2 separate regions of the Homo sapiens genome follow, and region 2 is linked to region 1. The links come from fine-mapping of genetic effects on gene expression. Tissue or cell type: whole blood. Region 1 holds a variant in brackets; the other region holds the start of a gene. All regions are shown on one strand. Distances are between the middles of the regions.

Evidence for each region. PIP is the estimated chance that this variant, and not a neighbour inherited with it, causes the effect.
Region 2: it holds the start of TNRC6A, and the variant in region 1 is fine-mapped to the expression of TNRC6A in whole blood (TOPMed, PIP 0.98).

Annotation. Positions count from the first base shown.
Region 1 is chr16:24,702,342-24,707,726 of GRCh38, reverse strand. It overlaps a transcript of TNRC6A not described here. Among named protein-coding and RNA genes, the nearest start is that of TNRC6A, 25 kb to the left of the region's middle. The variant G/A (reference allele first, on the strand shown) is at 2,153.
Region 2 is chr16:24,727,190-24,732,574 of GRCh38, reverse strand. It overlaps TNRC6A (trinucleotide repeat containing adaptor 6A), which reads right to left and starts at 2,924. Exons shown (of 25, transcript NM_014494.4): 1 at 2,729-2,924; 2 at 2,275-2,322. The coding sequence starts at 2,733. RefSeq lists a silencer at 2,586-2,895.

The DNA.
Region 1 (5,385 bases):
TGTATGTCTTTAGTCACTAGTAAGGTTGAGAAATTTTTTGTGTGTTTTTATGTATTTATGAGCAATTTATATTTCTTTTTTTGTGAGCTACATCATTCTTTGCCCAATTTAAAAACTATTCATATTTTTTCTTTTTAATTATAAGAGCTCTTTGTTTATTAAGGACATTTATTCTTCGTCTGTTGCATGAATTGTAGAAACATTTCTCCTAGCTTGTTACCTACCTTTTAATTTAGCCTATGGTATTTTTATACTGTGCAGCTATTTTGAATTTTATGTAGCTAATTTTTTCTTTTTAGCATCTGAGTTTTGTGTCTGGCTTAGAAAGATTTTCTCTTATTTAAGATGTGTGTGTGTGTGTGTGTGTGTGTGTGTGCGCCCATGTTCCCCTTTCATCCTGTTTTATTTATTTACATTTAAATTGTTTATCTGGCTGGATGCGGTGGCACATGCCTGTAATCCTAGCACTTTGGTAGGCCAAAGCAGGTGGATCACTTGAGGTCAGGAGTTTGAGACCAGCCTGGCCAATATGTTGAAACCCTGTCTCTACTAAAAATACAAAAATTAGCCAAGTGTGGTGGCATGCACCTGTGGCCCTAGCTACTCAGGAGGGTGAGGAAGGAGGATCTCTTGCACCCTGGAGACAGAGACCGCAATGAGTTGAGATCGTGCTACTGCACTCCAGCCTGGGTGACAGAGTAACCCTGTCTCAAAATAAATAAATAAATAAATAAATACATAAATAAAAATAGATAAATAAATAAATACATCGTTTATCTGTCTGGAATTTATTTGGCGTAAGGAATCAGACAGGCATCCAGCTTTAACTTAAGTTTTTCAAATGGCTAGCCAATTACTCTAACAGCAATTACTGCACTGCCTAATTTTATTTTTTTCTCTCTGATTTCAAATATGGTTTTACCATTTAGTAGCTTCTCAAATGTATTTGGGTCTATTTCTAGATTCTAATCTGCTTCATTAATCTGCTTTTCTTTTCATGCACAAGTACGAAACTTTTTTTTTTTTTTTTTTTTTGAGACAGAGTCTCGCTCTGTCACCCAGGCTGGAGTGCAGTAGCGCGATCTGGGCTCACTGCAAGCTCCGTCTCCTGGGTTCACGCCATTCTCCTGCTTCAGGCGCCCGCCACTACGCCCGGCTAATTTTATTTTTTGTATTTTTAGTGGAGATGGGGTTTCACCGTGTTAGACAGGATAGTCTCGATCTCCTGACCTCGTGATCCACCCACCTCGGCCTCCCAAAGTGCTGGGATTATAGGCGTGAGCCACTGCGCCCGGCCAAGTACTAAACTTTTAAAAATATAAATGTAGCTTTATAATGTGCTTCAATACCTAGGAGGGTTAATTCTTTTTTATTACTTTCCTTTTTCAAAATTTTCCTGGCTAGCCTCACTTGTTTATTTTTCCATTTGAACTTTAGACTCAATGAGGCTACTTCCAAAAAAACCTCATAATGTATTTTTATTGATATAAAATTAAAGGTTAAGTTTAATTTAGGGAGAATGTGCATCTTTACATCATGAAATCTTCTAATTGATGAACAAAGTGTGTATTTTCATTTATTTCTTCTTTCATTTTCCTACATTTTTGTTGTTGCTGATGTTGTAAGTGTGAGCGTTGGTGCTATTTTAAGTACAAGGTTTTCTTCCATTTTGTTTCCTAGCTTTTTCCCTGAAACATAGAAGTGCTGTTGATTGTGTAACCAACTACATTACTGACTTAACTCATTGTTTATGAGAGACTTTCCAGGAGTACTCTTGGATTGGCTAGATATGCAATCATATTACCTGCAAATAGTCATTATGTTGTCTCCACTTTGTAATTCTTAAAATTTGTATTTTTTATCTTTATATACCTAGAATAATATTAAATAAGTGGAAATATTATTTCTCTTACCCTGTTCCTGACTTTAATGGAAAATGCTTCTAGTGTGCAACATTAAACAAGATGCTATTTTTAAACTTAAATATGTTTTTATCATATCAATACTGGATATTGAATTTTGTTAAATATTCTTGTAGTCTCTAAGAAAGGTCATGTAGTTATTCTCATTTAACCAGTATTAAGAATTCACCTAAGGCTGGGTGCGGTGACTCATGCCTGTAATCCCAGCACTTTAGGAGGCCAAGGCAGGC[G/A]GATCACCAGAAGTCAGGAGTTCGAGACCAGCCTGGCCAACATGGCGAAACGCCATCTCTACTAAAATTACAAAAATTAGTTGGGCATGGTGGCATGTGCCTGTAATCCCAGCTACTTGGGAGGCTGAGGCAGGAGAATCACTGGAACCCGGGAGTTGGAGGCTGCAGTGAGCTGAGATCGTGCCACTGCACTCCAGCCTGGGTGACACAGTGAGATTCTGTCTCAAAAAAAAAAAAAAAATTCATCTAATATCAATAGATAGTCTGTATAAGATAGAGTTTGAGAGGCCATCCTGGCTGGTTCTAGACTCTAGAAATTCTAGATGTGCCATGCATTAACTGTGTGATCTGGGCAAGTTTCTTAGCCTCTCTGTGCCTTGGTTGCTGCCTCTGTAAAACAAAATTAATAATAGCATCTAGCTCAAAGGGTTGTTGCTGGATTTAAGTGAATAAATATAAATAAGGTGTTTTGAACAGTGATTGGTTCATAGTAAATACCATATAGGTACTAATCATTAGCATCACCTTTCTAGAATGACTCCACTTGCGCTAAGCTTTTTAAAAATTAAAAAAAATTTAAGTTCATTTTAAATTTTTTTGTAGAGACAGGGTCTCGTTATGTTGCCCATGCTGGTCTTAAACTCCTGGCCTCAAGTGATCCTCTTGCCTCAGCCTCCCAAAGTGCTGGGACAGGTGTGAACCATCGTGCCCTAGTGTGCTGAGATTTTCTGTTATTACTGTTTTAAATAAAGATATTTATTTACTTGTGAAAGTATTGCATGCACCCAGAAAAGTGCACAGCTGGGGGATTTGCTACAAAAGTGAGTACGTAAATAATATACCCCCTTATACTCACTTAATGTCATAATTTTTTTCTTTCTTTTTTTTTTTTTTTTTTTTTTTTTTTTTTGAGACGGAGTCTTGTTCTGTCACCCAGGCTGGAGTGCTGTGGTGTGATGTTGGCTCACTGTAACCTCCACCTCCCAGATTCAAGTGATTCTCCTGCTTCAGCCTCCTGAGTAGCTGGGATTACAGGTGTGTGCCACCACACCCAGCTACTTTTTGTATTTTTAGTAGAGATGGGGTTTCACCATGTTGGCCAGGCTGACATCAGGTGATCTGCCCGCCTTGGCCTCCCAAAGTGCTGGATTACAGGCGTGAGCCACCATGCCTGGCCTTAATGTTATAATTTTCAAAAGCATTTTATATCACTGCATTTGTTCCACAGAATCATGTCACAATGTATGTTAAAAAATATGAATACACACATGCAATGCCCTCCCGCCCCCCACCAGTCTCTACCAAATACAAAAATTAGCCAGGTGCAGTGGTGCACACCTGTAGCCCCAGCTACTTGGAGACTGAGTCAGGAGAATTGCTTGAACCTAGGAGGCGAAGTTTGCAGTGAGCTGAGATCGTGCCACTGCACTCTAGCCTGAGCAACAGAAGGAGACTTTGTCTCCAAAAAAAAATTTTTTTTTTTTTTTTTTTTGATACAAGGTCTCATTCCATCACCCAGGCTGGGTGCAGTGGTGTGAACACATTTCACTGCAGGTTTGACCTCCTGGGCTCAAGTGATCCTCCTGCCTCAGCCTCCCAAGTAGCTGGGACTACAAGTACGCATCACCACGCCCAGTTGATCTTTCTATCTTTTGTAGAGGTGGGGTTTCGCCATGTTGCCCAGGCTGGTCTTGAACTCCTGACCTCAGGTGATCTGTCCACCTTGGCCTCCCAAAGTGCTGGGATTACAGGCGTGAGCCACCACGCCCGGCCAAAAAAAAATCTAAACATAGAGTTTACCATATTACCCACCAACTCTAATTCTAGGTGTATACTCAAGAGAAATGAAAGCATATATCCACACAAAAACTTGCATATAAATGTTTATAACAGTTTTATTCATAATAGGGAAAAAGTAGAAGTAACTCAAATGTCCATCAATGAATGAAGGTATAAATAAAATTTATTTTTTCACTGGAATTGTCTCTCTAGAGATGATGTTTGTTTTTATATATTAATTTATTTTTTGAGATGGGATCTTACTATGTTGCCTAGGCTGGCCTCAATCTCCTGGGCTCAAGTGATCCTCTTACCTCGGCCTCCTGAGTAACAGACTACAGATGTGCACTACCATATCTAGCTAACAAAATTTAGCACATCCATTCAATGGACTAATATTTGGCATAAAAAGGAGTTGAGTACTGACACATGCTATGGCATGGTTGGCCCTTGAAAACATTATGGTAAGTGAAATAAACCAGACACAAAGAACAACATATAATGTCATTCCATTTATATGAAATGTCTCGAATAGGTAAATCCATAGAGAGAGGAAGTAGATTAGTGGTTGCTGGGGGCCGGGAGTGAGTGATCAGGAGATGGGGGTGATAGTTAAAGAATGTGGGTTTTTTAGGTGGTGAATAAAATATTCTAAAATTGATTGTGGTGATGGTTGCACAACTCTGTGAATGTATTAAACACCATTGAATTGGATGCTTTATTTTATTTTATTTTATTTTATTTTATTTTATTTTATTTTTGACACAGAGTCTCGCACTGTCACCCAGGCTGGAGTGCAGTGGCGCGATCTCGGCTCACTGCAAGCTCTGCCTCCTGGGTTCACATCATTCTCCTGCCTCAGCCTCCTGAGTAGCTGGGACTACAGGTGCCCGCCACCACGCTCAGCTAATTTTTTGTATTTTTAGTAGGGACGGTGTTTCACCATGTTAACCAGGATGGTCTCGATCTCCTGACCTCATGATCTGCCTGCCTCAGCCTCCCAAAGTGCTGGGATTACAGGCGTGAGCCACTGCGCCTGGCTGTATGCTTTATTTTTTTAGAGTTAGCATCTCACTGTGTCACCCGGGCTAAAGTGCGGTGGGATGATCACAGCTCACTGCAGCCTCGAACCCCTGGTTTCAAGAGGTGTCACCGTGCCCAGCCAAATTGTATATTTTAAGTGTGTGAATTGTAGGGTATGTGAATTATTTCTCAAAAAAGCTGTTACTGAAAAAATGACAATTTCATATGGTCCAATCTAATCTGCAATAGCTTAAATAGCAGTGGTATACTATGATAAGGTTTGAAGATTTGATAGAGCCAGGCATGGTGGCTCATGCCTATAATCCTAGCACTTTGGGAGGCTGAGGTGGGTGGCTTGTTTTAGCCCAGGAGTTCAAGACAAGCTTAGGCAACATGGCAAGATCTCATCTCTACAAAAAATACAAAAATTA
Region 2 (5,385 bases), 25 kb before region 1:
AGTGATATGGTCTCCTCCAAGTTACTTAACCTCTTTATACATCAAATTCTCCATCTGTAAAACGGAGATAACAATACTACCTACCTCACAGGGTTTTTCAAGGATCAGATGAGTCCATGTAAAATCTTAGGAAAAGTGTGCCAGGCACATAGTAAGCAATCAATAAATTTAACTACTTACATTCTTCCCTGGCTTAGTGCCCAGTCCCACAGTTGAAATATCGAAAATGCTCAAAAAATGGTTACTCAATGAATACAATGCCTTGATTTCCTGGAGAGAGCACTATGGGTAAAGACAGATACATTCTTTTTTGTGAAAAAGGAAACACAGCTAGAGATGGAGATGAAGGAAGCATCTGCCCACCTAATCACCTCTCTCCTTCCTCAGAACACTTTTAACCTGCAAGAAATGCTCCCCTCTCATTGGATCCTTAGTACACACTGCCTTACAATCTCTTTGATATTTGTTTTTCCTTTCATGCCTTCTGACCGACTGAATATTCTCAAGCACATGAATGGGATGGTATCTTTTGATTCCTACGTCATCTACCTAGTACTACTGTTATTTATGCATTTATGATAGTCTTTCTACTAGACTGTACATGCCCTCTGTGAACACGGACAGCACTTTACTCCTTTTATGTAACCCAAAGGGCCTAACAGACCTCAGCAACTGGCTGGCCCACGCCGCTCGTTTTATAGATTGGACAGAGAGGCTAAGTGACTTGCCAAGAGTCAAGGTCATATTGCAAGTAGCAGAGCTGGAATTCAAACTCTGATAAATAGCCAACCCAGACTCGAGTTCTACCTAATATTAAAATTATACCTGTGGCACAGACAATTTTTAATTAAGTACTAGAGCACCTTCATAGGAATTATACTGATATAGTTACCTGATAAAACAAAAATGGAAGGAGAAACAGACCTCTAAGCTCTGTTCTGCTGATATTACACCTTAATGGCTCAACCTGTTTTCTTTAATGGTTTCATATCTTAACATTTCCTTACTAGATTTTGACAAAATTTATGTAAATATACCACAAATAGTCAGTGATGTCAGACTTAATTTCCTTTAAATGATCCCATAATTATTTTGAGTAACAGAGAATCCCTTACTGGGTAAACCAATGATGCCTATCCTTCACCATCTGAACACATTCTTTAACGATCACCTGAACAGATTAGTATCTTATGAAACTCAATAGGCCAGCAATTTGGAACAATTCTACGCGGTGCAAAATATTCAGACGATTTGAAATGTGAGTGTTAAAAACCCCAATGTAAACCTAAAACCCGCAATCATCAAGAGCAAACTACATTAAAACCTGAGATAGGAGAAATTTCATTTTATTTTCAACAAGTGAAAAAAAAGAAAAAAAGAAAGCTATTCACGGATTTGGTTAATTGGCTAAGTTTCCCTGAGTGTCCCAATATGATGCAAAAGAAAAAGGGGAATAAGAAAGGAAAAGACGGTAGGAAAGAAAATGAATGTGAAAAGGAGTTAAATACAGTACAATTCCTTGATGCTTAAGCAATTACAGCTCAATGAAGCTAAATATTTCCATTCCATAAAGACATCGTTTAAAAAAAAAAAAAAATTCTCCCTTCACGGTGATGCAAAAGCAGCAGGGCCCAACAGGAACGATAACCTCTTCTGGAGAAAAGATTTTTAATTATTTTACCAGCTGATAAAAAGAGCACACACCGAACATGGACAGAAATGGAGTTTCGAAGGAAAACAAAACGCAGCTTATGCTTGGTAAAGTTCAAGGACAAAACTGTGTCCAATGCAACAGAATCCGCCTGACTACAATGTATGGGGGGGGGGGGGGGGCGGGGGGGAATGCGAACACATAGTATCTTTTTATAAAAGCAACAATTTGAGCTACAAAGTAATAACGGGGAAGCCAAAACAGTTTGACAGCCCGCCATAAGGGCCGCCTCAATCATGAGTCACACAATGCCTGCAACCATTTACAATAGTAATTAATGCACAAGTCCCCTAATTAAATTCTAAAAGGGTGAGAATGCTTTAACTAAGTTTACAAGAATTGCTTTGCGCTTTTTTTTTTTTTTTTTAAAGAAAGAAACACACGCGTAATTACGCATCTCCCCGCAATCCCTCCAGTATTCCCCCAGGCCGCTTCTCCCGAATGTCTGCTCTCCGGGTGCGGAAGAAAATGTCACGGGGGAACTTCTCAACCCAGAAAAGGCGAATCGGAGTAGAAATATACGATTATCGTGGGGCGGGAGACGGAAAGCTCGCCCATCTTACCTGCTAAGATTTCTTTCTACGTCTTTGGTAGCTTTAGCTTCCAATTCTCTGAAACAAAAAAACAAAAACAAAAACAAAACAAAAACACACACACAAAAACGAGATGCGCGTGAAAACGGAGCTGCTGCGGCAGAGGCTCGCGCCGGGGCCGGATGGGGGAGGGGAGAGGACGGGGGGAGGGGGACTCACAAAGCTGCGGGGCTGCAGCCCGGACTGCGGTCCCGCGGCGCGGGCGAGGCGCAACCCCGGCCTGGCCCCCGCGGCGCGGCGCAGCGAGGCTCCCCCGGGCCGCCCGCTCGGCCTCCGCAGCAACGCAGCCTGCGCCCTCCCGCCGAGGCCCGAAGTCTCGGGGACGCCCGGCGCCGCCGCCTCTGCTGCCGCCGCCGCGGGTTGCGGGCCCTGCGGCAGCGCCCGCGGCTCCTCCCGCCCGGAGGGAGGCCCTTGTTCCGCTCACCTCATGTGTGTAAAGTGCACGAGCAAGTGGGGCGCGGCGAAGGAGGCTCGCGAGCCTCAAGCCCTCCGCAGCGCCGCGGGGAGAGGCCCGAGCCGCTGCACCAGCGCCATTTTCTACACCGACCCGCTGCCGCCGCCGCCGCCGCCGCCGCCGCCGCCGCCGACACCGCCGCCGCCGCAGGCCCCAGACCGGAAGTGAATGCCCCACTCGGCAACCCCTTCCGGGGGCGCCACGGCCACTGGCCCCCAAGATGGAGGCCCTAGCAACTGGACCCGCAGATTGGGCAGGTCCTTGGCAACCGCCCCGGCGTGTCACGCTGCACCCAGCCGGACCTCCCTGGAGGTCACAGCCTCCGAGGCGCCCCGCGGAGTGGCTGGGGGGGCCTGCGGAGTCCCGAGTCCAACCTTTTTCGGTGCGGCCGGCTCCGGTCTGACCGAGGAGGGGAGTCCCTCCCCTCCTCCTCCTTCTTTGCTGCGACACAAGTTTCCTACCCGCCGCCCGGCCCCTCCCCCACTGACACACGCCAAAAAAAAAAAAAAAAAAAATTGCCTAAAACGCAAATTTTACCCCAACTGCAGCCTGATGAGCCCGCGCGGCTTTTGAATTCAGCCACTTCTAATTATTTTTGACCTTGGGCCAGTTATTTAACCTCTCTGCTTCTCTGTTCCTCCTCAGGTAAAGAATGCATACCTGAGGCGGGTTGTGAGGCTTAAAAGCGATTTTTATCCACCGACCTTTGACTCAGCAGTTCCGCCTGCACGGATTTTCTGCTCAGGAAATAATTCTGGGTATCTGCAAATATTTCACCTTCGAGATACTAAGCTGTGGTATTGATGATGGTGAAAAATTGCAAACAGCCAAAATGTCCAGCGCTACTAGATGGCTTCAAAAACAGCTACTGGCATGTATTAGGACACTGTAAAAATGATGTGGAGGAATAATCCCGGCATGGAGGAAATGGTTGCAATAGAATAAATGAAAAAGCAGGTTCCAACGTAGCTCACACAGTAAGAAACATCTTAGTGTAGACACAGTAAGATACATACATGTAGATAGACTAAGATATGTATATATGTAGACACAGATGCATATGTGTACATTAAAAGTATACATACATACCTACATGTAGATACAATAAGACATACATATCTGCAGGTAGATACAACAATACACATACATGTAGATACAGTAAGATACATATTTTCACTTGCGTGTGTTCTTTCCAACCTCTCATCAAGCTTTTTCTTCTAATTTAAAGATAATTCCTCCTCTGTGCTTAAAATCTATAACCTTTACTTTCTCAGAAACCCCACTCTGTGGATCATCCCATTCTCCTTTTTCTAACCTAAGTTCTTCAACTGGCTTTTTTTTTTATTTTTTTATTATATTATCATTTTTTTTAGGCGGAGTCTCGCTCTGTCTCCCAGGCTGGAGTGCAGTGGCGCGATCTCCGTTCACCGCAACCTCCGCCTCCCGAGTTCAAGCAATTCTCCTGCCTTAGCCTCCCAAGTAGCTGGGATTACAGACACGCACCACTGCGCCTAGCTATTTTTGTATTTTTAGTAATGACGGGGTTTCGTCATGTTGGCCAGGCTGGTCTTGAACTCCTGACCTCAGGTGATCGCCCCCCTCGGCCTCCCAAGGTGTTGGGATTACAGGCGTGAGCCACCGCGCCCAGCTTCAACTGGCTTTACAACATGCTTGAATCTCTCCCGTTAAAAACAAACAAAACTTCCCTAGACATGTTGGGTTCCTGTCCTCTCCGATAGGTTAAGCTAGTGAATGAATGCACAGAAAGTCATGAAACATATGCACCAAAACGTTAACTGATTATGACTTTTTTTCATTTTCTTCTTTTAGTGTATCTGTTTTTTTCTTTTTTGCGATGAGCATATAAAAAACACTTTTTTGAAAAAAAAAATCAGGTTTACAAAATATAAAATGTAGTGGGCACCGAATAAATGCTAGTGACTTTCCTTTTCCTGCTATCATCCCTGAGGTTCATTTACCTACACACATATTTGTTTTTCTTTCATAATCCTTTCTACTTAAAATGTTTAAAAGTTACTATGGTGTTTCATTAGGAGTTTAAAAATATGAACATATACGTAATGGCACAATATGCTTTCATACCAGGTTTAGGAATAATTTTTCACAACAACATAAGGCAATGAAAACAGTCATATTTATCAACATTTGCACAGCTGTTAAGATTGGCTGATTTTTTTTTTATTAGACTTTTTTAGGTTTTAATGACTCAGTGATTCTTAATTGGGACAATGTTGCCCCCATCCCTACCCCTGGGGACATTTAGCAATGAACTTTTTGGTTGTCACACTGGATGCTACTGATTGGTATCTGATAGCTACAGACCAGGGATTCTACTAAATATTCTACGATGCGTAGGACAGTCCCCTACAACACGGGAGTATCTGAACCAAAATGCCAATAGCACCAAGGTTGAGAAAGCCTGGAACTAATTCCCAGCTCCAGCAAAGCTAATAAGATATGATTTCTTGGCCAGGCGCGGTGGCTCATGCCTGTAATCCCAGCACTTTGGGAGGCCGAAGTGGGCAGATCATCTGAGGTCAGGAGTTTGAGACCAGCCTGGCCAGCATGAGGAAACCCGGCCTGTAGTAAAAATAAAAAATTAGCCA